Linked DNA regions of Homo sapiens: region 1 is linked to region 2. Evidence: fine-mapped expression QTL. A gene starts in region 2. The other region holds a variant in brackets. All regions are shown on one strand. Distances are from middle to middle. Region 1 overlaps STEAP2 (STEAP2 metalloreductase). Region 2 holds the start of STEAP2 (STEAP2 metalloreductase).

Evidence for each region. PIP is the estimated chance that this variant, and not a neighbour inherited with it, causes the effect.
Region 1: its variant is fine-mapped to the expression of STEAP2 in ovary (GTEx, PIP 0.93).

What each region holds. Positions count from the first base shown.
Region 1 is chr7:90,227,374-90,242,919 of GRCh38, forward strand. It overlaps STEAP2 (STEAP2 metalloreductase), which reads left to right. Exons shown (of 6, transcript NM_001244944.2): 4 at 1-125; 5 at 2,499-2,663; 6 at 4,964-10,310. The coding sequence ends at 5,251. It overlaps LOC107986819 (a long non-coding RNA gene), which reads right to left. Exons shown (of 2, transcript XR_007060423.1): 2 at 10,214-15,546. Among named protein-coding and RNA genes, the nearest start is that of CFAP69, 10 kb to the right of the region's middle. RefSeq lists a silencer at 7,187-7,392. The variant T/A (reference allele first, on the strand shown) is at 7,626.
Region 2 is chr7:90,202,813-90,218,358 of GRCh38, forward strand. It overlaps STEAP2 (STEAP2 metalloreductase), which reads left to right and starts at 8,928. Exons shown (of 6, transcript NM_001244944.2): 1 at 8,928-9,233; 2 at 13,679-13,791. It overlaps STEAP2-AS1 (STEAP2 antisense RNA 1), which reads right to left and starts at 8,823. Exons shown (of 3, transcript NR_110029.2): 1 at 8,488-8,823; 2 at 7,039-7,126. RefSeq lists a silencer at 9,031-9,090.

The sequences.
Region 1 (15,546 bases), 25 kb after region 2:
TACAGTGTAGAAAACAGCTTGGATTACTAAGTTTTTTCTTCGCTATGGTCCATGTTGCCTACAGCCTCTGCTTACCGATGAGAAGGTCAGAGAGATATTTGTTTCTCAACATGGCTTATCAGCAGGTACTGAATGTGCTTGTTATTTATCTGATGCTAGTAAAATACTTTTTATTAGTATAAATTGTAAAACATAAAATTTTACATGCCCTGTAATGGAAATTTGATTTTGGTATACTGCGGGAGGGGAAAGAATTGTTCTTTAAACAATGTTTTTGCAAAATAATTAGGTGGCTAATTCAAAATTATTTAAGTAAAGGCTGCTACCATCCTTTTCCATACAGAATAAAAGCAGAAAAATAGAGGGTTGGGTTCTCCCCCTTTTTCAATGTTATAATTGCAATGAGTGCTTTCAGTATTCAACAATTCATTATTTTAATGTTTTATAATTGGCTGTGCTCCACAAAATGATGAGGCAATTCTCAGTAAATATATACAATAAAATTAGAACCAGTAAAAATACAAAACAGAACAGGAAGACAAGATCAGGAGAAAAAAGTCGAATACACCTCTGCTAAGAGTGTCTCCACAGCTTCTCTTTTGGCTTTGAGATTTTCAATACAATGAGAAGGGAGACCCTATTATTTACAAAGCTCTTGTTATCAAAAACCAGAAAAGATAATAGTTCCACAGGTGAAGCTTTTCTAGCACTTAGCTCTAAAAAAAAAAATCTCAGGGAGCACTTCATGGAAGGGGTTTGATTATGAGGTAGACTATGGTTTTCCTCCATAATTCCCAATCCACAAATGTAATTTAAGGGGTTTCCCTGAAGCTGTTTGGTGTAGCATTTCTCCATGAAAGCCAAGAACATTGCACCAAAACAAATGTGTAAAAGCATCTGCATTTTGTAAGGATCGAAGGCATCATAGTCCAAGTATGTGGCATCTAGTACTTAAGCTTGTTTCAACAATAAAACCTAAAATAATATTTTTCTAATTAGTAGATTGATAACCTTTAAACCATTCACTCCCTGAAAAAAAACTTCTCTTAATGGGATACTAAGGCTTTTATTGTTGCTCAGTCAGCTCCCTTGCCTCCTTCCAGTCATTTGCCCAGATCTCACCTTCTCAGCGAGTCCTATGCTGGATACCATCTTAAATGCCGCTGCCTCTGCCCCAACCAGTATTCCCAATCCTTCTGACTTACCCTGCTCTACCTTTCTTTTTTTAATAACACTTACCATCTTCTAACACACTTGATTTCCATGTTAAAAATACATTTACCAGTGTCTGCCTTCCCCCAACAGAAAGTAAGTTCATGAGAAGAGGGATCTTTGTCTATCTTTTTCACTGATGCATACCCAGTGCCTAGATTTGAGCCTAGACATTGTGGACACTCAAACAGCCCATTTGTGGATGAATGAATGAACTGGGAGAGCAGGTAGATCCAGGTTGTAGTCTCCGAGTACACTGGGTAGTGCTGTTTTTCTGTATTGTATAGATATCAAATAAGAAGATGGTAAGAACTCTGTGGCCTCTTTCAAGATGATGGTATGATTGCCTTAGGGAACTAATAGCTAAGAAGCAGCTTTTCGTTGTTAAATTTCAAGTATGTTTTGTTAACTGGAATTGGACAAAGTTAAACTGTTGTTAAGTTAGAATCTGTTTTCCATTAATAGATACTTATTTAAATCAAAAATTTCAGCTGAAGGAGTCCAATACTTGATTTATACTCTAATTATATTCTGAATGTAAATAGAACTTCTAAAGGTAGTCCCTACACAAAATACCACAAATTCAGAGTTCACCGTCTGACTTGATTATATACACATTATCAATGTAAGGAAAAGACATTTGGAAAAAATACTGCATATAAATGACACAATTGGATAGTTGGGGATCATATTAAATGAGGCAGTTCAAGTGGATAAATGAGCTCCATTGGCCTTTATAGCTAGGGAAATCACAGCTTTCTAGGAAGAGAAGATGAGAAGAAAGATAAAACAGAGATATATTATTCATGTGATGGAAGAAGATACTGACATAGTTTAGAAATTCCCTGACCGGATCCAAGTTGAACTAAGGCCAGACTATATCCCAGATATTCAACCAAGTTTAAACCAGCTTGTAATAGTACTTCAAAACTAAGTTTAACTGTCAGTAACTTCTTTTGTGTCACCCTAGAACCAACTACTAGGTATTTTATGGTGTTGGATTCCAGAGTCCCTGTAATGATGATGGCAAAGCTTTGCCCCTCTATTCTAGCACGTATACAAGGAAAGAGAAAGTTTTGTCCTCCTTTTGTTTAATTCTCTTTTCCCTTACACCTGGAGCAGTATCATCCAGTAACAGGTTCTCTGTAATGGTTTGTTAGACTAAATTAGTACAACTTAAATACGTCCATATATGACCAGGTTCTTCTTATGCCAAGAGTGAACTCTGTGCTGAATCAGTTAATGTTCTACTAAATAAAGGAAATTCACATTCGCTTTCTTGTTAGGTTCATGCAAATATTGAAAACTCTTGGAATGAGGAAGAAGTTTGGAGAATTGAAATGTATATCTCCTTTGGCATAATGAGCCTTGGCTTACTTTCCCTCCTGGCAGTCACTTCTATCCCTTCAGTGAGCAATGCTTTAAACTGGAGAGAATTCAGTTTTATTCAGGTATGTGGGGTTTTGTTTGGTGAAGGATTGTGCAGGATAGGATTTCCTTGTTAAGAACAACTGCATTTTAAATATGTTCCTTATTAAAAGGGTGCCTTTGAGGCTGTATTTATGCATCTAGATACATTATGCTGGAAGCCAGCTTAGGATTGCTCTGGTTAAATAAGTGAAAGACCAGTCAGTATATGATTGTACTGGAAGACTTTGACAGCACTGCCTTCCAGTATACTATGTTAAGAACAAAAAAGTTATCTTAAAAGAGAAAAAAAAAATGAAAGTTGGGAAGGATGAGCTTAGATCAAATTTAATGTTGAAAGTCAATTTATTATTAGCCAAGTGAATGAAAAATTATTTTATGTTTTGAGTCATCTTGATTTGTCCAGAAAAATCTTATTAATTTGAACTCAAGTGGGGATGTCAATCTGAATATTTTAAAGAAATGTGTGTATATATACACACACATACAAACACAAGCAGTGGCAAACTAGGTAACTAGAGTAATGGATTATAACATGCAACCAGCCTTAAGAATTTTGTTAGTATATCAGTAGTATACTAATACGTATGGATGTCTGTAAAGGGATTTCAAACCACCATTGTATTCTTTAATAAGTTAAACATTCACCTTCTCCAATAATATCTAAATAATAAGGTTGCATATTTTAAAAATATATAACTGAAACATAGACCCTTCCTATATTTTCACAAAATCTGTACTGGTTGTATCCAAATGGTTTACAGCATAGTAGACAGATTCATGTCCTTTGGTGGTACACTTAAGTTTTGTTTCAATTCATTGCTTATTTGCTTGTTTTTTTTTTTAAGGTCCTGTAAAAATCTCATTCAAAGCAGGGCCAAAATGCTTATCTGAATTTATTTTTCCTTTTTGAAGAAAAGGGAGAGTACTTTCCCAACAGCTAGTTTAATCATACCCGAAAAGAAATAGAAGGTTCTAGACAGATGCAAATTATCATTATAAATTTAGATGAGTAATTGCAAATATTTTGCCTGCTGGAGGGTTGATATTTTCCAGTAAAGTTAGACATTACATCACTATACTGATGTAATATTACTTTTATATAACAGACTATTCTTCAAAGTAAGCACTCTTAAACATAATAATTTAGCGAACTAAAGAATGATGAGCTTTTAGAATTTAAACTGTAAAGTGCCTAACTGAAGTATTCTTAATAAACTCTATATTTTAATTGTTGTTTATATTAATACTGCAGGATTTTTCATATTTGCCTATTAACCAGTGTGTATATATGTGTGTGTGCCCATGAGGATGCTCATTTAATTTTAATTTAATTTAATTAATTTTAATAATTTTAAATTAGTTTATTTAATTTTATCATATGTCTGTTTATGTATTAACAGTGATGTGTTACCTAACAGTAGGGAACGTTCTGAGCAATGAGTCGTTAGGCAGTTTTATCATGTGAACATCATAGAGCATATTTATACAAACCATGACCTATTGCTCCCAGGCTACAAACCTGTACAGCATGTTACTGTACTGAATATTACAGGCACTTGTAACACAATGGTAAATATTTGTGTATCTAAACATATCTAAACAGAGAAAAGGTACAGTAAAAATAAGGCATATAATCTTATGGGACCACCGTTGTATATGCAGTCCATAGTTGACCAAAATGCCCTTATGTGGCACATGACTATATTTATGTGTATGTGTATACACACACACATACATACACATTTCTTTAATACACAACTGGTGGGAATGTGAATAATTTTTATAAAGAAGAGTCTAGCAGTATGTATCAGTACCCTTAAGGAAAAGCTAGATGTTTTGACCAATAATCCTACTATTAGAAACCAGTCCTAAGAAAATAAATCAAAATATGGAAAATGGCCTAACATGACATTTATAGTTGAGGAAAGTTGGAAACAGTGAATTATCAACAAAAAGGAATGGTTTAATAAATTATGCACATCCATTCAATAGAATATTATACAGTATTAATGTCATTTTCATATTTAATGACATGAGGAAAATGTTCTTGATAAAATAAATGAAGTAGTAAGAATATTAAACTGTATGCAGTAGGGCCTTATTTGTGTAACATAAGGTGTGCATATAAATAATACATATATATGCATATATAAAAATATTAATATTATTTAATTCAGTAGAGGACAAAGGTTAACTTGATAATTTAAGACAAAATAGTTTTATCAAAATATAAACATGGTGTATCTTGATAGTTTAATTTATGAGTTTCAGTCATTTGTTTCTTATTCTTTGTTTCTTTTCCTTCCTCTCCTGGCCCAAGTCTACACTTGGATATGTCGCTCTGCTCATAAGTACTTTCCATGTTTTAATTTATGGATGGAAACGAGCTTTTGAGGAAGAGTACTACAGATTTTATACACCACCAAACTTTGTTCTTGCTCTTGTTTTGCCCTCAATTGTAATTCTGGGTAAGATTATTTTATTCCTTCCATGTATAAGCCGAAAGCTAAAACGAATTAAAAAAGGCTGGGAAAAGAGCCAATTTCTGGAAGAAGGTATGGGAGGAACAATTCCTCATGTCTCCCCGGAGAGGGTCACAGTAATGTGATGACAAATGGTGTTCACAGCTGCCATATAAAGTTCTACTCATGCCATTATTTTTATGACTTCTACGTTCAGTTACAAGTATGCTGTCAAATTATCGTGGGTTGAAACTTGTTAAATGAGATTTCAACTGACTTAGTGATAGAGTTTTCTTCAAGTTAATTTTCACAAATGTCATGTTTGCCAATATGAATTTTTCTAGTCAACATATTATTGTAATTTAGGTATGTTTTGTTTTGTTTTGCACAACTGTAACCCTGTTGTTACTTTATATTTCATAATCAGGCAAAAATACTTACAGTTAATAATATAGATATAATGTTAAAAACAATTTGCAAACCAGCAGAATTTTAAGCTTTTAAAATAATTCAATGGATATACATTTTTTTCTGAAGATTAAGATTTTAATTATTCAACTTAAAAAGTAGAAATGCATTATTATACATTTTTTTAAGAAAGGACACGTTATGTTAGCATCTAGGTAAGGCTGCATGATAGCATTCCTATATTTCTCTCATAAAATAGGATTTGAAGGATGAAATTAATTGTATGAAGCAATGTGATTATATGAAGAGACACAAATTAAAAAGACAAATTAAACCTGAAATTATATTTAAAATATATTTGAGACATGAAATACATACTGATAATACATACCTCATGAAAGATTTTATTCTTTATTGTGTTACAGAGCAGTTTCATTTTCATATTAATATACTGATCAGGAAGAGGATTCAGTAACATTTGGCTTCCAAAACTGCTATCTCTAATACGGTACCAATCCTAGGAACTGTATACTAGTTCCTACTTAGAACAAAAGTATCAAGTTTGCACACAAGTAATCTGCCAGCTGACCTTTGTCGCACCTTAACCAGTCACCACTTGCTATGGTATAGGATTATACTGATGTTCTTTGAGGGATTCTGATGTGCTAGGCATGGTTCTAAGTACTTTACTTGTATTATCCCATTTAATACTTAGAACAACCCCGTGAGATAAGTAGTTATTATCCTCATTTTACACATGAGGGACCGAAGGATAGAAAAGTTATTTTTCAAAGGTCTTGCAGTTAATAAATGGCAGAGTGAGCATTCAAGTCCAGGTAGTCATATTCCAGAGGCCACGGTTTTAACCACTAGGCTCTAGAGCTCCCGCCGCGCCCCTATGCATTATGTTCACAATGCCAATCTAGATGCTTCCTCTTTTGTATAAAGTCACTGACATTCTTTAGAGTGGGTTGGGTGCATCCAAAAATGTATAAAAATATTATTATAATAAACTTATTACTGCTTGTAGGGTAATTCACAGTTACTTACCCTATTCTTGCTTGGAACATGAGCCTGGAGACCCATGGCAGTCCATATGCCTCCCTATGCAGTGAAGGGCCCTAGCAGTGTTAACAAATTGCTGAGATCCCACGGAGTCTTTCAAAAATCTCTGTAGAGTTAGTCTTCTCCTTTTCTCTTCCTGAGAAGTTCTCCTGCCTGCATAACCATTCATTAGGGAGTACTTTACAAGCATGAAGGATATTAGGGTAAGTGGCTAATTATAAATCTACTCTAGAGACATATAATCATACAGATTATTCATAAAATTTTTCAGTGCTGTCCTTCCACATTTAATTGCATTTTGCTCAAACTGTAGAATGCCCTACATTCCCCCCACCCCAATTTGCTATTTCCTTATTAAAATAGAAAATTATAGGCAAGATACAATTATATGCGTTCCTCTTCCTGAAATTATAACATTTCTAAACTTACCCACGTAGGTACTACTGAATCCAACTGCCAACAATAAAAAGACTTTTATTTAGTAGAGGCTACCTTTCCCACCAGTGACTCTTTTTCTACAACTGCCTTGTCAGTTTGGTAATTCACTTATGATTTTCTAATGTTCTCTTGGTGAATTTTATTATCTTGTACCCTCTTTTTTTTTTTTTTTTTTTTTAAAGACAGAGTCTTGCTCTGTCACCCAGGCTGGAGTGCAGTGGCACGATCTCGGCTCACTGCAAGCTCTGCCTCCCGGGTTCACGCCATTCTCCTGCCTCAGCCTCCCGAGTAGCTGGGACTACAGGTGCCCGCCACCATGCCCGGCTGATTTCTTTTTGTATTTTTAGTAGAGACGGAGTTTCACCGTGTTAGCCAGGATGGTCTCGATCTCCTGACCTCGTGATCCGCCCGCCTTGGCCTCCAAAGTGCTGGGATTACAGGTGTGAGCTACCGCGCCCGGCCTATTATCTTGTACTTTCTAACTGAGCCCTCTATTTTCTTTATTTTAATAATATTTCTCCCCACTTGAGAATCACTTGTTAGTTCTTGGTAGGAATTCAGTTGGGCAATGATAACTTTTATGGGCAAAAACATTCTATTATAGTGAAC[T/A]AATGAAAATAACAGCGTATTTTCAATATTTTCTTATTCCTTAAATTCCACTCTTTTAACACTATGCTTAACCACTTAATGTGATGAAATATTCCTAAAAGTTAAATGACTATTAAAGCATATATTGTTGCATGTATATATTAAGTAGCCGATACTCTAAATAAAAATACCACTGTTACAGATAAATGGGGCCTTTAAAAATATGAAAAACAAACTTGTGAAAATGTATAAAAGATGCATCTGTTGTTTCAAATGGCACTATCTTCTTTTCAGTACTACAAAAACAGAATAATTTTGAAGTTTTAGAATAAATGTAATATATTTACTATAATTCTAAATGTTTAAATGCTTTTCTAAAAATGCAAAACTATGATGTTTAGTTGCTTTATTTTACCTCTATGTGATTATTTTTCTTAATTGTTATTTTTTATAATCATTATTTTTCTGAACCATTCTTCTGGCCTCAGAAGTAGGACTGAATTCTACTATTGCTAGGTGTGAGAAAGTGGTGGTGAGAACCTTAGAGCAGTGGAGATTTGCTACCTGGTCTGTGTTTTGAGAAGTGCCCCTTAGAAAGTTAAAAGAATGTAGAAAAGATACTCAGTCTTAATCCTATGCAAAAAAAAAAATCAAGTAATTGTTTTCCTATGAGGAAAATAACCATGAGCTGTATCATGCTACTTAGCTTTTATGTAAATATTTCTTATGTCTCCTCTATTAAGAGTATTTAAAATCATATTTAAATATGAATCTATTCATGCTAACATTATTTTTCAAAACATACATGGAAATTTAGCCCAGATTGTCTACATATAAGGTTTTTATTTGAATTGTAAAATATTTAAAAGTATGAATAAAATATATTTATAGGTATTTATCAGAGATGATTATTTTGTGCTACATACAGGTTGGCTAATGAGCTCTAGTGTTAAACTACCTGATTAATTTCTTATAAAGCAGCATAACCTTGGCTTGATTAAGGAATTCTACTTTCAAAAATTAATCTGATAATAGTAACAAGGTATATTATACTTTCATTACAATCAAATTATAGAAATTACTTGTGTAAAAGGGCTTCAAGAATATATCCAATTTTTAAATATTTTAATATATCTCCTATCTGATAACTTAATTCTTCTAAATTACCACTTGCCATTAAGCTATTTCATAATAAATTCTGTACAGTTTCCCCCCAAAAAAGAGATTTATTTATGAAATATTTAAAGTTTCTAATGTGGTATTTTAAATAAAGTATCATAAATGTAATAAGTAAATATTTATTTAGGAATACTGTGAACACTGAACTAATTATTCCTGTGTCAGTCTATGAAATCCCTGTTTTGAAATACGTAAACAGCCTAAAATGTGTTGAAATTATTTTGTAAATCCATGACTTAAAACAAGATACATACATAGTATAACACACCTCACAGTGTTAAGATTTATATTGTGAAATGAGACACCCTACCTTCAATTGTTCATCAGTGGGTAAAACAAATTCTGATGTACATTCAGGACAAATGATTAGCCCTAAATGAAACTGTAATAATTTCAGTGGAAACTCAATCTGTTTTTACCTTTAAACAGTGAATTTTACATGAATGAATGGGTTCTTCACTTTTTTTTTAGTATGAGAAAATTATACAGTGCTTAATTTTCAGAGATTCTTTCCATATGTTACTAAAAAATGTTTTGTTCAGCCTAACATACTGAGTTTTTTTTAACTTTCTAAATTATTGAATTTCCATCATGCATTCATCCAAAATTAAGGCAGACTGTTTGGATTCTTCCAGTGGCCAGATGAGCTAAATTAAATCACAAAAGCAGATGCTTTTGTATGATCTCCAAATTGCCAACTTTAAGGAAATATTCTCTTGAAATTGTCTTTAAAGATCTTTTGCAGCTTTGCAGATACCCAGACTGAGCTGGAACTGGAATTTGTCTTCCTATTGACTCTACTTCTTTAAAAGCGGCTGCCCATTACATTCCTCAGCTGTCCTTGCAGTTAGGTGTACATGTGACTGAGTGTTGGCCAGTGAGATGAAGTCTCCTCAAAGGAAGGCAGCATGTGTCCTTTTTCATCCCTTCATCTTGCTGCTGGGATTGTGGATATAACAGGAGCCCTGGCAGCTGTCTCCAGAGGATCAAAGCCACACCCAAAGAGTAAGGCAGATTAGAGACCAGAAAGACCTTGACTACTTCCCTACTTCCACTGCTTTTTCCTGCATTTAAGCCATTGTAAATCTGGGTGTGTTACATGAAGTGAAAATTAATTCTTTCTGCCCTTCAGTTCTTTATCCTGATACCATTTAACACTGTCTGAATTAACTAGACTGCAATAATTCTTTCTTTTGAAAGCTTTTAAAGGATAATGTGCAATTCACATTAAAATTGATTTTCCATTGTCAATTAGTTATACTCATTTTCCTGCCTTGATCTTTCATTAGATATTTTGTATCTGCTTGGAATATATTATCTTCTTTTTAACTGTGTAATTGGTAATTACTAAAACTCTGTAATCTCCAAAATATTGCTATCAAATTACACACCATGTTTTCTATCATTCTCATAGATCTGCCTTATAAACATTTAAATAAAAAGTACTATTTAATGATTTAACTTCTGTTTTGAAATGTTGTATACACGTGGATTTTTTTCTCATTAAATAATAATTCTAGTATTTGATGGAGGCCTTCTAATACTTTTCTGAGTTATTTCTTTTCAGAAGCATCCAGAAAGCAATACATGTGATAGTTATGGAGGGGTTTTGTTTGTTTTTACTAAAATAGTCATTTAGAAAAACCTCCATTTACATTTATTTTATTACATTATTTCATTTTACTAGCATTCATTAAGCATCTTTAAATCAGAACACACACAATATTCAAGCTATTCTGTAAACTCCCCGTAGCAGAAATTTTGTCTTATTTACTACTAAATCCCCAGTATCTAGTATAATGTGATCTATGATGGATACTAAAGAGATATTATAATAAATAATTACCCATTTTTACAGAAAATTATGTTTTTTATCATCCCGCATCCATGCAGCCATGCCTACATCCTCTTGCCTCTTCCTCATGCCTTGCCTCCTGGCCAGTGGCCTAGCGCTACCCTGTTGTCCTAAAGAGTTTCTGCTGCTGCTGCCACTACCACCACCACCACACTGCTATATGTTGAGGAGTCCTGTACACTGTGCCACTGACAAGGAGTAACTGACCTTTGTGCCTGTGCACCAGATCTGTCTGTGGAGGTTCTGGCTTCCCCAGCTGCTGCCTGGAAATGCTTAGGTGCTAATATCCTGAGAGGAGGATTGTCAGGTAAAATACAGGACTCTCAGTTAAATTTGAATTGCAGACAAACAATAAATTACTTTTTATTATAAGCATGGGCTTTTTAAAATTTTTCTAAATCTGGCAACCCTACTTAAGGAGTGAACTTTGATCAAGGAGGTACAGCACAAAATGAAGCTAGTAGATAAATTCTCCCTTCCTTTCCCCCAGATAGGCTGTTCTAAAGTGCAATAATTCATAAGACCTTCATGAAAATATCCTCAAAGACCGAGCAATTAACTGCACTTGTTGCAAAGCTATGACAAGCTCACTAACACCTGTGTTTGTGTTCCCTTCTCCTACTGCCTCACTTCCATGTTTTTCCTCACTTCTGTTTCTCAGAGATAGTACTCCCCATAGAGTGGCAGCAGGTGAGTGTTGGTGTTGTTTGTTTATGGCAGGCTTGGGGAACCTAGACTAGTACAGTACTTTTGGTAGTGGATTCTTCTAATGGGAAGTGAAACAAGAGACAAATGATGACTTTGAGAAAGTCAGGCACGGGACCCTGCAGACTCAAAATCCAGATTTGTTGAGACCCCTGAGAGTAGAAAAACCCCTCAGGGGCAGATTCACATTGATCAAATGTACAGTCATACACTGTTAAATCAAAATAGTAACTCAGCACTACTGTGTGAAATATCAGTGTCCTGTAGGCGAGAATACCATTTGTGCCTTGATTAAACATACTTTATTCTTGAATCTGCTGTTTATAAGAATTGAAGTTATAATTCAAAAGATACTGGGATCTGTTATGGGCTGAACTGTGTTTCCTCAAAATTGATACATTGAAATCCTAACTCCCACACTACCTCAGAATGTATTTGGAGATAGGATCTTTAAAGAGGTAAAGTGAGGTCATACAGTTGGGCCCTAATCCAGTATGACTGGTGTCCTCATAAGAAGAGGAGATTAGGAATCAGGCATGCACAGAGGGAAGACCACGTGAAGTAAAAGGGAGAAGACGGCATGCCAAGGAGAGATGCCTCGAGATGAAACCAATCCTGCCAACACCTTAGTCTTCAACTTCTAGCCTCCAGAACTGTAACAAAATAAATTTCTGTTGTTAAAGCCACCCAGTCTGTGGTATTTGTTACAGCAGTCTTCAAAAACTAATACAAGGTTCATAGAATCAAAACAAGTCAATTTAGATATAGAACTCAAATAATTAATGTCATTGGAACAAACCTGTCTGATTAATCTTGCTCCACAACAAAGACAGTTCTATCCTGGGGTTATTGCACTATAACTACCCACCATTTAAACACAATAAATAGTTGTTCTAAAATCTCGGGAACATTTTTTTTTCATATAATTATTCCCATGTCATGGAACTGAAGCTTTGGGTAAAAGCGCTTTATAAATTCTTCTTTTAATTTTTTTTACTTTCAATTTGTTTACTTTTCCACTAAACACGAGTAGTTCCTGCAGCTTCCTACTTAAAAATCACTTGCAGTTTGGGTTATTGTTAGTATACTTTTCATTAGAATGGTTGTCTTCAGGGGTGACTATTCTTTTACTTTCGTTTTCTGTTCCACGTGCTTATTCTTCCCAAATGTACATTAATGATTCTGTTGGAAAGAGGTAATTACTTTTGTTTTGTTTTTAGGCTTTGTTTCTGTGCTGTCAACCTGAAAAAGTTTTTTAAAACAGTGAAGTATAGGCTGGGAGCGGTGGCTCACGCCTGTGATCCTAGCACTTTGGGAGGCCAAAGTGGGCAGATCGTTTGAACCCAGGAGTTCAAGACCAACCTGGGCAATATGGTGAAACCCCATCTCTACAAAAAACAACAAAAATTAGCCAGACACGGTGGCACACACTTGTAGTTCCAGCTGCTCGTGAGGCTAAGGTGGGAGGTGGGAGGATCACCTGAGCCCAGGGAGGTCAGGGCTGCAGTGAGCAGAGATCACGCCACTGCACCCCAGCCTGGGTGACAGAGTGAGACCCTGTCTCAAAAAAAAAAAAAATTAAGTATAATAAATTCTGGTTTTGTATGCATTTCTTCTCTTACAGAATTTCCCTAAAGCTAACCTACTAAAAACTATGACTAGATTTCATATGTGCTATAAACATTCTTTATTTAAAATAAATTACTCTAATTCAGAAAGGAATAACATTTGCTTGCACATTTAGAACATCTGGCATTAGAGACTATAAAATTCATATATAGTCTCAAATACTTATTAGACATATTCTTAATTCAAGAATATATAATTATTCATATGATTAGAAATAATTATAATTTTACTAAACATTGCTAATTAGGCAGAGTACAAACAAGAAAAAGTCAGAAGGAAAATAGAACCACAATTTGCAATATATTTATTTTAAAACATTTTTAGCTTTCTTTGTTACTTTTAAAAGTAAAACTTGTAAGTCAATATATTATTAAAACTACTAGTTAATCTTTAAGTCTACAGGTGCTACTAAGAAATTGCAATTTGTAACTTAACAGAGATATTAAATTCTGTAGAATTGTTACCACATTCAAGCATTTCTATTCTGTAGGTATAACTCATTTCCCATGTTTCTCTGCTATTTATCTTTTTGCTGAAATAATTTACTCCTTCAGTAGTCATTTCACCCTTTCACCCTTCTGTGTTTTTGTGTCATAACAGAAGAATCACTAAATAATGATTAAAATTAAGTCAACATACCAAATATAAAGTTAAAGCTTTTATGAAGCTTAATCTTTGTGCACTTACCAAGAAGAAAAGTAAACCCACTATTATTTGGGAACAAAGGACTTGGAAAATCCACGAATGGAATAATTAGTGAAAACCAGTTTTATGGATGCTGTTAAAACTACTCCAAAGCAATAATAATGACAACACACATAAACATACACACACACACACACACACTCACACACATGAGCAGTGCTTCTCAAATTTTGATGTGAGGCTGAGGATCTTGAGAGATCAGAATCTCAGAATGGAGATTCTGAGTCAGTAGGTCCACCAGGCGGCAAGAGAGTCTCCATTCCTAACAGAGTCCCTAGTAATGCCAGTGCAAGTAGCCCAAGGACCCCATTTTGAGTAGCAAGGACCTGGAGTATTTACCTTACTTTGGATAACTTACAAAATGCTTTAATTTGGCTTCAAATCAAAATAAAAAGTAATTTATAATCCTTGAAATCTTTTAATGAACATTTTTTGAGTGACTAGTATGATATGGACCAGGAAGTCCCAAAGTATGTTCTCCAGACCAATAGCATCAACATTGTTTGGGAACTGGTTAAAAGCACATATCCTTGGGCCTCACCCAGACTTACTGAAGCAGAGACTCTGCAGGTAGGGCTTGAGATTCTGTTTTAACTATTTCTCCAGACGATTCTGATACACATTAGGTTTTGAAAACTACTGCTCTAGACAGTATGCTGAGGGTCTGGGGTGCATATCAAAGTGACTCTCAAGAATCTCAGTACAGTAGGAAGGGGTCCAATTGCTGAACCAGTTGATACCATTAAGTATGTGATGAGTACAAAAACGGAATGACAGACAAGGTTGCACCCAACACAGCAAAGGATGTAAAGGTTTCCTAGAAAATGTCATGTTAACTGAATTTCATAGGGATTAGCCATCTGAAGACGGTGGCATGTACAACATAATGCAAATGTTATGCGGGAGGAAACCTGCTGGCACCTTTCGAAAACTGCAGTAATTCACCCAAGATGGCTGGCTGTGGGGTGTTTGAAGACTCCTCTACCCTTGTCCTTCTCACCTGTCCATGAGTAAAACAAATACCGTTAGAGCTAGAAAAAAAAAATTACAAAGCTGAGTCTATTAACTTGCCAAGCAAGAGAACTTACTCCATGAAGAATTTCACTGAGGAGGGAAAGTCAGGGGTTTTTAAATGTTAGAAGTGGGGAGCTTATGGGGCTTATGCTAATTAAGCATTGGAAACTGGCACTCTGGATATGGGGCAGAATGAATATATAGGTCTCTACACCATTGGTTAAATAAAATAAATATCCCATTGTTCACTAGTCAGGAAAGTCTCTTCAGTTAGGTCCAGTGAGGAAGGTGCCTGTCTAAGGTTACTGAGGCTTAAAGACCCTTATCAGCTTCAGCCTGTGCTGTTAAAATACAAGAGTCAGTTGATGTCTCCTAGGCAAGCTCTACTTTAAGTGGAAATTTTTCCTTTCCCCTCCCTCCTCTTCATCTTTCCTGATCCTGAGATGCTAGGATGACCACACAAAGGATATGCAAATAATCCAATTGTCAGCTCTCTGCCACCATCTTGGTTTGGGGTGCCATTCCACAGGATTCCATTGTATTCATCCAAGTAGTTTCAGTCTCCTTTCGATGTGGTTTACTTGGACTGTGTAACAGCAATTTAAGTCATATGAATAAAACACTTAACATGCTTTGCACTTTCCCTAGGTGGAAGCAACCTTAGACCTACTAAACTGCCCTCTAGATGTAATAAGGCCTAAGAATGGTTCTAAAGATATCTATCAGTAGCTAGGCAGCAGAGTGGTGCAGCAGAAGCATGCTGGGCCCATAAAGATACCAATGAGTAGCTGTAGAGATGAAAGAAAAACAAAAAGAATGTGGAAGCCTAGGCAAGGGGGTTGTAAAAAGAGGAGA
Region 2 (15,546 bases):
GAGCTATCTATGACAAACCCACAGCCAATATCATACTGAATGGGCAAAAACTGGAAGCATTCCCTTTGAAAACTGGCACAAGACAGGGATGCCCTCTCTCACCACTCCTATTCAACGTAGTGTTGGAAGTTCTGGCCAGGGCAATTAGGCAGGAGAAGGAAATAAAGGGTATTCAATTAGGAAAAGAGGAAGTCAAATTGTCTCTGTTTGCCGATGACATGATTGTATATCCAGAAAACCCCATTGTCTCAGCCCAAAATGTCCTTAAGCGGATAAGCAACTTCAGCAAAGTCTCAGGATAGAAAATCAATGTGGAAAAATCACAAGCATTCTTATACACCAATAACAGACAAACAGAGAGCCAAATCATGAGTGAACTCTCATTCACAATTGCTTCAAAGAGAATAAAATACCTAGGAATCCACCTTACAAGGGACGTGAAGGACCTCTTCAAGGAGAACTACAAACCACTGCTCAATGAAATTAAAGAGGATACAAACAAATGGAAGAACATTCCATGCTCATGGATAGGAAGAATCAATATCATGAAAATGGCCATACTGCCCTAGGTAATTTATAGATTCAATGCCATCCCCATCAAGCTACCAATGACTTTCTTCACAGAATGGGAAAAAACTACTTTAAAGTTCATATGGAACCAAAAAAGAGCCCGCATCGCCAAGTCAATCCTAAGCCAAATCCTAAGCCAGGAGGCATCACGCTACCTGACTTCAAACTATACTACAAGGCTACAGTAACCAAAACAGCATGGTACTGGTACCAAAACAGAGGTATAGATCAATGGAACAGAACAGAGCCCTCAGAAATAACGCCGCATATCTACAACTATCTGATCTTTGACAAACCTGACAAAAACAAGCAATGGGGAAAGGATTCCCTATTTAATAAATGGTGCTGGGAAAACTGGCTAGCCATATGTAGAAAGCTGAAACTGGATCCCTTCTTTACACCTTATACAAAAATCAATTCAAGATGGATTAAAGACTTAAATGTTAGACCTAAAACCATAAAAACCCTAGAAGAAAACCTAGGCATTACCATTCAGGACATAGGCACGGGCAAGGACTTCATGTCTAAAACACCAAAAGCAATGGCAACAAAAGCCAAAATTGACAAATGGGATCTAATTAAACTAAAGAGCTTCTGCACAGCAAAAGAAACTAGCATCAGAGTGAACAGGCAACCCACAAAATGGGAGAAAATTTTTGCAACCTACTCATCTGACAAAGGGCTAATATCCAGAATCTACAACGAACTCAAACAAATTTACAAGAAAAAAACAAACAACCCCATCAAAAAGTGGGTGAAGGACATGAACAGACACTTATCAAAAGAAGACATTTATGCAGTCAAAAAACATATGAAAAAATGCTCACCATCACTGGCCATCAGAGAAATGCAAATCAAAACCACAATGAGATACCATCTCACACTAGTTAGAATGGCCATCATTAAAAAGTTAGGCAACAACAGGTGCTGGAGAGGATGTGGAGAAATAGGAACACTTTTACACTGTTGGTGGGACTGTAAACTAGTTCAACCATTGTGGAAGTCAGTGTGGCGATTCCTCAGGGATCTAGAACTAGAAATACCATTTGACCCAGCCATCCCATTACTGGGTATATACCCAAAGGACTATGAATCATGCTGCTATAAAGACACATGCACACGTATGTTTATTAAGGCACTATTCACAATAGCAAAGACTTGGAACCAACCCAAATGTCCAACAATGATAGACTGGATTAAGAAAATGTGGCACATATACACCATGGAATACTATGCAGCCATAAAAAATGATGAGTTCATGTCCTTTGTAGGGACATGGATGAAATTGGAAATCATCATTCTCAGTAAACTATTGCAAGAACAAAAAACCAAACACCACATATTCTCACTCATATGTGGGAATTGAACAATGGGAACACATGGACACAGGAGGGGGAACATCACACTCTGGGGACTGTTGTGGGGTGGGGGGAGGGGGGAGGGATAGCACTGGGAGATATACCTAACGCTAGATGACGAGTTAGTGGGTGCAGTGCACCAGCATGTCACATGTATACATAGGTAACTAACCTGCACATTGTGCACATGTACCCTAAAACTTAAAAGTATAATAAAAAAATTTTTAAATTAAAACTTGCATAAATATGTTCAAATATAAAATGAATTATAAATTTCTTATGATTACAGTTTACACACAACTATAAAACCAAAACAAATTGCAAAATTGTTAAATTATATCTAACATGTATAGTACATAATAAGTACTAGGCACTTTACATCTATCAACTTATTTAATATTCACAACCCAATGAGTTGGACATGATTATTATCGCCATTTAATAGATGAGGCAACCAAGACTGGAAGAAGTTAAACAACTTGTCCAATGTCCCAAAACTGATAAATGGCAGAGCTGGATTTCACAGAAAAGTTAACAGACAAGCGAATGTGAAGAATGATACCGTTTTACAGAAGTTAAATTGTTCCTTGTAATGTGAATATGGTATTGACTTTAACTGTAGATCTTCTGGCTTTAACATACATAAATTAAAATGAGCGGGATAGTGACTAATTTCTCCCACCACTTGTTTTTCTCTTCTGTCAACTGCTAAATATATATTGGCACAGCACAAATTAATGTCATTTGGTCTTCATTTTAAGGGAATGGCTTGTTACAAATTAAGTCTACATCTGTTCTCTCAAGTTTTTTCTTAAGACAATTCCTGATTACTATTTTTCTTTATTATTGGGATTTAATTCACATACTATACAATTTATGCCTTTGAAGAGTACAGTTCAGTGGCTTTTAGCGTATTCACAAACTTGTGCAGCCATCATCACTAATTCCAGAATATTTTCATCATACCAAAAAGAAATCCCACACTCACTAAGCAGTTAATATAGTTTAGATATTCGTGCCTTCAAAATCTCATGTTAAAATTTGATCCCCAGTGTTGGAGGTGAGGCCTAGTAGGAGGTGTTTTGGTCATGGAGGGGCGGACCCCTCATGAATGGCTTGGTGCCATTCTTACTGGAGTAATCCCATGAGAACTGGTTGTTAAAAAGAGCCTGGCACCTCCCTCCTCTCTTTCCTTTTCTTGCCATGGGAAACCTGCTCCCCTTCGTCTTCTGCCATGAATAGAAGCTTCCTGAAGCCCTCACCAGAAGCAAATGCTGGTGCCATGGCCATGCTTCTTGTATAGCCTGTAGAACTGAGTCAAAAACTCTTCATAAATTACCCAGCCTAGGCATTCCTTTATAGCAATGCCCCACACTCTTCCCCACCAGCCAGTAGGTTGGCAATTATCAAACTATTTTCTGTAATGATTTTCCTATTCTGAATATTTAATATAAACGGAATTATAAAATATGTGGATCTTTGGGTCTGGCACCTTTCACTTAGCATAATTTTTCAAGGTTTATGTTGTAATCCATGCCAGTATTGAATCCCTTTTTATACCTGAATAATGTTTCATTTTGTGGATGGGATCATATACATTTCATGTACATTTTAATCAATTAATGGACATTTGAGTTGTTTCTACCTTTGGGCTACTATGATAATGCTGTGATAATATTTGAGTGCAAGTTTTTGTGTAAAAATGTTTTCAGTTCTCTTGGGTATGTAACTAGGAGTGAAATTGCCCAACTGTTTTCCAGAATAGTTGCACATTTTACTTTCCCACCAGCAATGTATGAGGATGCCAATTTCTCTACTTTCTCACCAAGACTTGATATTGTGATACTGACTTTCTGATTATAGCCATCTCAGTAGGTGTGAGTGGTATCTCAGGTGGTTTTGATTTGCATTTATCTAAGGATTAAGGATGTTGAGCAGTTTTTTGTTTGCTTATTAGCCATGCATATCTTCTTTGAAGAAATGTGTATTCAGATTCTTTGGCCATTTTGTAATTGGGTTATTTCTCTTTTTATTCAGCTGCAAGAGTTCTCTCATTAAGATCTGACAGGTTAATACAACACCAATGCAATGATAAATGCAAAAAACAGGGACTCTGAAATTGCGTGGTTGTACTCAGTTATAAGGTGGTCATCCATGAGATCCAGAATCAAATTTGATGAAATGGTTAAGATTATAATGTTTTATAATTTGTTTATTTGAAAATATACATTTTAAATGTTTGCTAGAGAGCTCTAATATCCTCAAGAATACCTACAATGTAAACACTGTTCTATGCATAGACTAAATCCTTAGCAATAGACAGAAGGAACTGAGTGCTCTTTGAGTGAGGGAATGGGCTTGACCAGTGTTTGAAGATTTAAAAATGAATATGAAGACATGTTGTGACACTAGGGTATGATTATATTTTTATATTTAAGTAGAATCTGATTATCATCAGAAAAACTCTAATTTTAAAATCCATAGCTGGCAATATCCATGAATTCAGCCCAGGTCATCAAATGCTGAAAGCACATGGGTCAGATTGACTGTCTCCATTTTTTCTTGCTTACTTCAAAGCTATGAAGAAATCCAAAGCCCTTGCTGATACTCTTCCATGATATATTCCTTTTAAATGCTTGAAAAGTTTTCCCTTCCTACAGGAATCCCCCAAACACAGCTGTCCTTACACTGAGCCCCTATTCAAATTTTGGTTCCTCTTTCTAACATTGGTCGTCAGTCAATTTTGCTGGTCTATACCAACTGCAGATCTAGAGCCAATGCTTATAGAACTTTTCTGAGAATTCTTTTAATTTCAGATAATTTTTTAAAATTACCACAAAATTAGTTTAGAAGAATTCGCAGAGAGGTACATTGGGAGGGAAATAGCTTTGAGGCCCTTTATGGATTTATGACCAAAGCTATCCAGTCAAATTCCTCCAGGTATTTTTGCTATTTCCTATGGGTATACTGAAATTACACACATTTTAAAGCTTCCTTAATCAACTTAAACAAATACAAATAATAAAATTCAGTGTCAATGAGATACTGAATCTAAAAGATAAAAGTACATCCATATTTTTATAATGATTTTTCAATTGTTATGGAAAGAAATATGAGACTATGTAAACAGAAAAAATAAAATTTCTTTTAATTAAAAAACCCACATTAAAAAATATATCCCAAGAAAATATTCCCATCACTTATTACTCCAAAGAGTAATTTGTTCAAGGAGGTTAAAGCAGTGTTACTTATAATAGTTAAAGAATCAGAAAATGTACTTTCCTAAAATTTAGGGTTAAGAAAACTATTCTAGGCCAAACACAGTGGCTCACACATGTAATCCCAGCACACTGTGAGAGGGATGGGTGATGTGGGAAGATCACTTGAGCCTAGGCATTTAAGACCAGCCTGGGCAACCTAGGGAGATCCCCTCTCTACAAGTAATAAATAATTAGCTGGGTGTGGTGGCGTGTGCCTGCCTGTAGTCCAGCTTCTGGGAGGCTGAGGCAGGAGACTCACTTGAGCTCAGGAGGTTGAGGCTGCAGTGAGCCTTGACCATGCCACTGCACTCTAGCCTGGATTACAGATTCAGACCCTGAAAAAAAAGAGAAAGGAAGGAAGGAAGGAAGGAAGGAAGGGAGGGAGGGAGGGAGGGAGGGAGGGAGGGAGGGAGGGAAGGAAGGAAGGAAGGAAGGAAGGAAGGAAGGAAGGAAGGAAGGAAGGAAGGAAGGAAGGAAGGAAAAACTAGTCTATACCAATATATAAACTATATAGCCATTAAGAATTATAAGACTTTAGAACATGTTGATCTCTGGAAATATGTTTATGAAATAATGTTAATTATAAATATGTGTTTTGTACAGATGTACATTCAAGCATTTTAATAGATTTATAAATCCTTGTGTATCATTTTGTGTTCAAACACAGCGTATTTCTTTTTTTAATCATACTTAAACAATTTATTTTTTATTTCAATAGTTTCTGAGGAACAGGTGGCTTTTTGTGACATGAACAAATTCTTTTGCAGTAATTTCTGAGATTTTGGTGTACCCATCACCAGAGCAGTGTACACTGTACTCAATACGTAGTATTTTACCCCTCACCCCACTTCCCCCTGGAGCCCCCAGACTCCACTATATCATTCTGATGCCTTTGTGTCCTCATAGCTTAGCTCCAGCTTATGAATGAGAACATATGTTTGGTTTTCCACTCTGAGTTATTTCACTTAGAATAATCATCTCTAATTCCATCCAGGTTGCTGAGAATGCCATTATTTTGTTCCTTTTTATGGCTGAGTAGTATTCTGTGGTATATATATACTATATTTTCTTTATCCACTCGTTGGTTGATGGACATTTAGGCTGGTTCCATATTTTTTGCAATTGTGAATTGCGCTGGTATAAACATGTGCAAACACAGTCTACTTCAGATTATATTTACATGTATAAATCTATTGATGTATATTAATGTACATTGACAAATAAATGTAAGGTGATGTTAACAGAATTTCATGTTTATTGAATTCTTTGGTTTTAAAACAAAGCAGCATTTCACAAAAATTATTCTATTTTATTATAAGCACTGCTTACAAACAAATTTGTTCAAAACAAATTTGGGGGTTTGGGGAATAGGTTAGGTAAAATGTTTTTACCATAGGAATTTTCAGAGCCTTTAATTTATTAACATACATTGTGGATCTCTAAAATGAAGAGATTTCTCTTATTGTTTATCTCAAAATCTACTATTTACATCACGACTTACATTTATTTTGTGTAAATAAATCTGCATAAATCTTATTTGCACTTGTTACTAATTTATCGTTTTCACCAAACTGTAACTTCTATCAGGACAGGTAAATATATCTGTCTTCTTCACCACTGTTCCTAGAGTGCCAGCCAGGGCATATAGAAGTGGCTCAATATTTTTGAAGTGAATGACTTGCTAGAGCAGCATTTAGGCAAACTAGTGCCTAAAGTCACACATTTTGGGAACTACCACTCTAAAGTTATTTAATTGTATAATAACTTCAAAGGAAAAAAATGTGTTAATGCCCCTAGGCCACTAGAGATCCATTTAATAATTATTGCTTCGCTTCAGTTGAGTCACTTACTACTTTAGGGAACAGAAGAGATTTCTCAGAGAGCACCTCATGACCTGGAAAAGTCTTGCAAAATCATTTTCATACTCTGCATCTCCAGCTGAAAAACAATGATAAAATTAGTTACCATGGAAGTTAAAGGAATCATGCTTTGCATTAACACCAACAGTCTTCTGGAACACATTTGGTAACATTAGATTTCCCATCAAAGATATTTGTTTATTTTAATAGTTCAAGCATGAAAAAGAGATATCCCTTTTGGAAGCTGCAAATTGTTGACTCACTGATTCTCATTTAGGAAAAGGGATTTCACATTACTTTATCTATTTTCTCAATAGTCAAAGCCCATGTTAAGAGAGCTTTTAAACATATTTAAAATATATGGCTTACCTACATGTTTTACATGATAATTTATGGTTATAGAAGTTAGAAAGTGCAATTTCTTTTAATATCCCCGTGGGGAAGTTATATAATTCTATAGTTTTTTAAAATATATGGAAAAGCAATATACTTTCCGTTAACTGCTAAGATTCATGAATTTTCTCCACAAGTTCTCCAGAGGAACTACTAGAAAAAACTCCACGAATCTCATTATTTGACAGTTTTGTTGAAGTGAAATTATTAAAATTGATATTAGATTTAATGACTTGTTTCCAGTAACCAAAATGGAAAGTATTCTACCAGCTGTCGATGGTTCCACACCCTGACACATCGTTAAAACCTTAGCTTCTGCCTAAACTTTAAACCTTAATAATATTTGGCGGTAGGGGAGGGGTTACATTTCAAGTCAAACAAAGGATGTATTTCCAAAGCAGCATTTACAAAGGTTAATCTGTGTATGGACTACAAAGGGGAAAGTGCAGTGCCCCAGTGATCGATCTAAGACCCCCCTCTCGTTGTTGTTGTTGTTGGGTTTTTTTGGTCTGGTTAATAAACCACCTAGAGGGATAATTTTTAAACTTAATTTGTTGAAATGGTACTTTACTAATGTATGAAAAAAATTTCCCCAAATTTGAGAATTTTTGGTAAGTTGATTTTATATTTGGGAATAAAGATCTCTTGCTTCTTCTACTGACACCTTCTACACAAAAGATAAAAGGTACTTTTACTTGGTAATCCGCAGGGAGAAAATTTACAGAAACCCAGAGCCAAAGGTGCTCTCAGGGGATCCCCTGAAACATTCAAAGCCATTGCGGCCCCAGAAGGTAAATGGCTTTCGCAGGAACACAGGTCTCCTGACTCACGGCCTAACCTTCCTTTCCCCCACACCAAAGCTCGCGCGGCACCAGCTAGAGTGAAGGTCAAAGTCAACAGAATAATCTCTGCAGTCCAGGGTCTGTGAGGGTCCTCCTATCCGAGGGAGTTTTCATGAAAGGGCATTTCCGAACATTTTATTCCAAGGACACAGTCTAGTCAAAAGACGTTTGGGATAGGGTAAACATGAGGCAAAAGAACACTTACAAAAGAAAAAAGCGCAGTTTCTTGGAGGCTTGTCAGAAGCTAAGACTGGGGAGATGAGAACCAGGGCCCTTGGCGAGAGTTGGGGTGGGAATCGCGTAAGAAAAGCAATTTCTAGAGCGGAAAGGTGACCCCACATTACAAAAAGAAATGGAGTAGAAAAATAGGCTTGACTATTCTAAAGCTGCTTCAGAAAGAATCTCCGGAAGACCACGGAGGAACCCCGCAGGGGAGCCAGGCGGATACTCAGCCGCTCGCGGTAGAAGGGCGCGCAAAGCTGCGGAGCCGCGTGTGTGGAGCTCCCCAGTGCACTCACTGCTGGCTCCCCCTCGGTGCTCTGGGCCCTTCCCAGCTCCCTCCACACAGCCCGGCTCCCTTCACACACCCCCGCCCCCTCCGAGCTCCCCGACTCCTCCCCGCGCTCCACGGCTCTTCCCGACTCCAGTCAGCGTTCCTCGGGCCCTCGGCGCCACGAGCTGTCCGGGCACGCAGCCCCTAGCGGCGCGTCGCTGCCAAGCCGGCCTCCGCGCGCCTCCCTCCTTCCTTCTCCCCTGGCTGTTCGCGATCCAGCTTGGGTAGGCGGGGAAGCAGCTGGAGTGCGACCGCCGCGGCAGCCACCCTGCAACCGCCAGTCGGAGGTGCAGTCCGTAGGCCCTGGCCCCCGGGTGGGCCCTTGGGGAGTCGGCGCCGCTCCCGGGGAGCTGCAAGGCTCGCCCCTGCCCGGCGTGGAGGGCGCGGGGGGCGCGGAGGTGAGCGGGTCGGGGAGGAGCGCGAAAGAAGGTAGCGGCGGCGGAGTTGAGGGTCAAGATGCAGTCTGCGCCACGCGCTGCATCCATCCTCCCCGATTCTGCGCCCTCACCGGGCGTCCGCCCTGAGCTGCGGGGTCCCTCATCTCCTGGCACCTTAAGGTGGAAAGTGAGAAGGGTGGAGAAGGGTGTCTGTTCCACTGATTCCCCCTCCTCCTCCTCTTGGTTCCTAGAGCTAAGGGCAAGTCCTGAGGTTGGGCCCAGGAGAAAGAAGGCAAGGAGACATTGTCCCAGGTAGGATGTGTCCCAGCAGGAAAGGACAGGCAGGTTACTTTCGCCCCCTTGATAGTCTCCCTGCTACTTTGGGTTGATGCAGGGCATTTCATGGAAGATCATGCAGTGCTGCTTTGCGAACAGGTATTTCTAGCAGTCATTTGGTTTATTTCCCAGTAATGTAATCGTGGTGTTTAGGCCATTTCTGTTAGAAAGTAATTGGCCTCTTCTTTGACTGTCCTAAATTATCTTTGAACCCTGTGTTCAGCCTCAGCCAAAACTTGTTGAAAATTATGCCCTAAAAATCTTGCTCTTAAAATAGAGCAGAGAGATAAAGAGCATTTTTGTTGGAAGATTTCCATTTATTATCTCTCCCACCCCGTGGAGAAGGATTGGTGTCAGTTTTTACTCCTCGGGCAGTTAGTTTTTTAGATGGAAAGACAGTCCAGGCCATAGTTAATTATCGCTCATCAGTATAGGAGAAAAAGAATTCAGACTCCTGCCCCACCCCCACCCCCACCCCCAACCTCCTGACTTAGATTCTGGTCCTTTTAACAGCCCCGCTGCTTGGAACCCTTTTTGTTTTCTAAACCACCTCCCCATCCTTCCTTTTCTCCACTTTATTATTTCTTCATTTTATTGATCTGTTTATTTTTTCTTTCTTTAACCCTATAATTTTTTTACTCCGATTCTCTCTTGGTTGCTTCAAAGCTTAGAGGCTATTTAATGGAAAAGCAAAACAAAACAAAACAAAACACCCGTCCTAAATAATTTGCAGGATGTTTAGAAACATAAAGAGTAACTATGTGTGCTGCCATTGGGATGGCTGCACTCTCTGCCTCTTAGCTAGTCACTCTGTCAGGGTATGGGGAAATGAGACAATATTGAGAATGACAACTTGAGCAAATTGTGCAGTAAGGAAATGAAAAGCTTTATCCAAGTCACTTTTTATTGTACTGGTGCTATGGAAAATGTGGTGAATGAACATAGTTGTATTTTAGTACTGAAAAAACAGGACAGGTGAAGACAAATTTTTAAAGAAAGGATTGTAAATGAGTTAGAAAAGTGAGAAAGAAGATACACCAAAAATGTGAAAGAGTAAGACTGCAGGCGTGATAAAGGACATAGGACATCAGGAGATGTATTTATCCCTGCTGGGCCAGAAACCAGGACATTGAGGTAACTGAGACATTAACATAACAATAACATTGATAAATCACCTACCCCTTAAGGGCCCACATGTGTTTTCAGCAAAAAGAGAAATCTGATCTAGAGAATTATTACATGTCTTTTTGTCCTGAATTTTTTTGATGTATTCCATAACAAAGAATTTTTATTGCATCCTTAGTTACACTGCCAGCCAATGTGGAGGCAGTGATCACGGACAAGACAAACATGGTTCTTCCCTCGTGCAGTTTATTGTCCAATGGGGGAAATAGTAAACAGTAAAGAAACAATTATATAAAATATTACAAAATAAATTTAACAAGGGCTGAGTGAATTATTCTGCTATAGAGATGGAACAGTATATGGAAAGCTCCCAAGGTACATAAAGTGGTTGTTGTTTTCTCTTTCTAGAAGAGAATGCTGTGGGTGGACAATATACAGATAAGGTTAGAGAGGGGAAGCGGGGACTAACTCATTCAGGACCTTTTACGTGATAGTCAGGAAGATGGCTGTAGTTCTAAGTACAAGGAGCACCGATTTTAAGGAGAGACATTTTATGACGATTTACATTTTAAGATGATTTTAGCTGCTGTGGAGATGTTTGGAAAGGGTCAAAAGAGAAAGTAGGCTGACCCATTAGGAAATGTTTGCAGAGTTCAGGTGAGATGATAGACACCTGGACTAGCCTGGTATTGGTGGAGAGGGATTTATGAAATATGTTGGAGAACAGGAATTGGTGCAGGATTTTATGTCAAAAGTGAGGGTCAGCAAGGACTTAAGAATGACTCCCAATTTTCTGATTGGAGCAACTGGTGGATAATGGTGGCATTTACACATTTCCAGGCGAATGGGACCAGCTCTGGGTGGAAAAAGTTCAGGTTTGAACCTGTGAAGTTTGAGATGTCACAGAAAGAGGTCATAACCATATCCCCTTGGGAAGCAAAAAGGGAGGCTCTCCAGGACATAAGTGGATAGACTGGTCTTTGATAGGTAAAATTGGTGATTGTTAATTTAAGGTGAAACTAATGAGCTCAGTTTTCTGGTTTTTCTCCAGCAACCTTCACCAACGTGGATACAGATACAGAGAAAATGGATAGCTGGGTCCAGGACTAGAGTTTTGCCAAGCAGATATGATGGAGAGTAAGAGAGCTGAGGATCTTTTTAAGGGAGTGACTACAAATCTAGCCTCGGTTTAAAGAGAAACCAGAGCAGGCTGAAGGAGAGTGCAGGATATTAAGCAATTAGAGAGGTAGAGGTCAACGGATCAGATTTCTTTTGCTGTTTAGAATTATCAGTGTGAATATTTAAACTAAGATTATTGGAAGTCCTGGAGACAGTGCTTGGAGATTTCAGGCAGTGAGTGACTGAGGTGGGGTAGAGGCAAAAATTCATTGTCTCCAATGAGTAAGTCAAGGAAATAAGAGCCCCTGAAGTTGAATGGTTCATCCACTTGAATGATAAAGTCCAGGAAAAACATGATAGCTATTAGGGTAGAGAGGATGACCATGTATATACTGGGAGCCAGAGTCTGCAGTCATAAGGAATAAACTAGAAGTCAGTAGAGGACAGCAGTGAGGACAGCAGTAAGGACAGGGAGAGGGTATGGTGAAGTACCATGAGCTTCAAAGGAGCTGGGTGTTTGCAGGAGAGACAATGAAGAAGAGATGTTCAGATGTGGGCTTACAAAGTGAAGATTACACCACCCCACCTCATGGCCCTGGAGAATTATGTTTTCTTGATAGCCTCTCCAAATCTGCAGGTTGTGAAATGTCATCAAAACCTCTGTGGACAGCCCTTTCAGAGTTGCTGTCATCCAATAATAAATGCCCTATTTATGTGTGAAACAAATTAGGTTCTATTTTTCAAAAGTAACATAGCACAACAGGTGCCATTCAGCTTCAGGAATGTTCAGGAAATCCTTCTAAACTGAAAACCTTAAGAGGCTGTCCAGCTGAATGTAACTGAATTCCCTATCAAAATAATACATTCTCAAGTATTAAATGTGTACAGCAAGTCAAATGCCCATTCAAGAAAACGATGTCATTGACACAGACTTTTAGATTGAGCTCCCGAAGTTGAAGTGTTAAATATAGGGTGGTGATATTACCATTATTACACAGCTTCAAGACTTATTTAGTGTTGGAAACTACCACCAGAGTCAAGTATAACCTATTTGTTTGCTGTTTAACAAAGGAAATTGAGACTCAGAGAATCAAAGTGATTGCAGAAGCTTAGGCCTGCTCTTTCACCCCTACACTATGAAGACAAAACTTTCTATAAATGACATAGTTGTTTTTTGTTTTTGTTTGTTTTTGTTTTTGTTTTGAGGCTGAGTCTCACTCTGTTGCCCAGGCTGGAGTCCAGTGGCGCGATCTTGGCTCCCTGGTTCAAGCGATTCTCCTTCCTCAGCCTCCCAAGTAGCTGGGATTACAGGCACCTGCCACCACCCCTGCCTAATTTTTGTGCCTTTTTAGTAAAGATGGGGTTTAATCATGTTGGCCAGTCTGATCTTGAACTCCTGACCTCAAGTGATCCACCTGCTTCGGCCTCCCAAAGTGCTGAGATTACAGACGTGAGCCACCATGCCCAGCCTATAAATGACATAGTTTTATCAGTTATTTAATTTGGATTCCTTATGAATAACTTCAAAAGAAAAGGTATAGACACTGTGGACATCACCTGGGAGCTTGTGAAAAAATGCAGAATGTCTAACCTCCCTCTAGACCTAAAGAATCTGAGTGTGCATTTTAAAGAGGTCCCCAGGTGATCATATTTGCATTAAAGTTTGACAAGTGCCTTTCTAGTGAGTCATTCCCTTGGAAACAGTGGTCTGCTCAGGTCAGCAGGATCATGATGCCTGGAGAACTGGGGAGGGGATCCCCTTGTAGAACAGAAAGAAGAGATACAGTCATGGAAATATTCCGAATTTTGAATATTATGAAACAACAGGAACAAAGTATGTTGTGCAAGGAGTGACGCATTTTAAGGAATGGCATTGCCTTTCCCAGAAAGTGAAGAGAGGAAATTGGAAAATTGTGAGTGGACCTTCTGATACTGCTCCTCCTTGCGTGGAAAAGGGGAAAGAACTGCATGCATATTATTCAGCGTCCTATATTCAAAGGTAACTACTACTCTTTCGCAAGTGTAATTTTTCATTACTACAAACAACAACGTAAAAATTAACATAAGTGAGGGTCAGAAAGCCACATCTACTATCGCCAAATGATGAAAGTATTAGATTGAATTCTGAATCTTTTACTAGAGTGATTTTCAATCTTGGTTGCATAATAAAACATCTGCTAATCTTTTTTAAAAAATGCTGTTGCTCAGGATGAACCCCAGAACAATTAAGTGAAAACTGGGTGGTAGGGGGGTGACCCGTCATCACTGTGTTTTAAAACTTGCCAGGTCATTGGAGAATGCACCTAGGGTTGAGAAATACTGCTTTAGTAGCTCATTCAGAAGCAGCTCTGAGATTGCAGTTCTGCTACTCCATGTGCCAAAACAGTGGGACTTTCCCTCACTACCATAAGCGTAGTGCCAAGCCAGGTCAGCAATATTCAGGTCACCCTCACTGGCCAGTTTTCAGAACATTGAGGGAAGTAGGATTTATTTCTTGAAGAAGCCTGCTTAGACTAACTTTTAAAACAAATTGATACATGTTACATATCTATGGGGTACACATGAGTATTTGTTATATCCATAGAATGTGTAATGATCTGGTTGGAGTTTTTGGGGAATCCATCACCTTGAGTATTTATCATATCTATGTGTTAAGAACATTTCAAGTCATCTCTTCTAGCTACTTTGAAATACACAGTACATTGTTACTGACTATAGGCAACCTACTTTGCTATTGAACATTAGAACTTACTTCTTCTAACTGTACATTTGTATCCATGAACCAACATCTCTTCCTCCCCTCCTCCCATCAACACATCCTTCCAGCCTCTGATATCTCTCATGCTATTCTCTACCTCCATGGGATCCACTTTTTTAGCTCCCACACATGAGTAAAAACATGTGATATTTGCCTTTCTGTGCCTGGGTTATTTCACTTAACATAATGGCCTCCACTCCTATCCATGTTGCTGCAAATGACACGATTTCATTTTTTAAGGCTGAATAATATTTCATTGTGTATACATACCACATTTTCTTTATCCATTTGTTGATGGACATGTAGATTGATTCCATATCCTTGCTAGTGTGAATAGTGCGCAAAAAAAAAAAAAAAAAAAAAACATGTGAGGACGGGTATCTCTTTGATATACTAATTTCTTTTCCTGTAGATAATACCCGGTAGTGAGATTACTGGATTGTATGGTAGTTCCATTTTTAGTCTTTTGAGAAACAACCCCTATACTGTTGTCCACAGAGGCTGTACTAATTTACATTTCCACCAATAACATATAAGGATTCCCTTTTCTCTGAATCGTTGTCAGCATCTGTCATTTTTCTCTTTTAATAATAGCAGTTCTAATTGGGATAAGTTGAAATCTCATTGTGGTTTTGATATGCATTTCTCTGGTGATTAGTGATGCTTAGCATTTTTTCATATACCTATTAACCATTTGTTTGTCTTCTTTGGAAAAATGTCTATTCATGACCTTTACCCATTTTTATGGGATTATGTGTTTTTTATTGTCAGTTGTTTGAGTTCCTTGTATATTCTGAATATTAGTCCCTTATCAGATTAATAGTTTGCAAATATTTTCTTCTATTCAATAGGTGGTCTCTTCATTCTGTTGATTGTTTCCTTTGCTGCACGGAAGTCTTTTAGTTTAATATAGTCCCATTTGTCTATTTTTTTGTTGTTGTTGCTGTGCTTTTGAGGTCCTAGCCATAAAATCTTTGCCTAGACCAATGTCTTCAA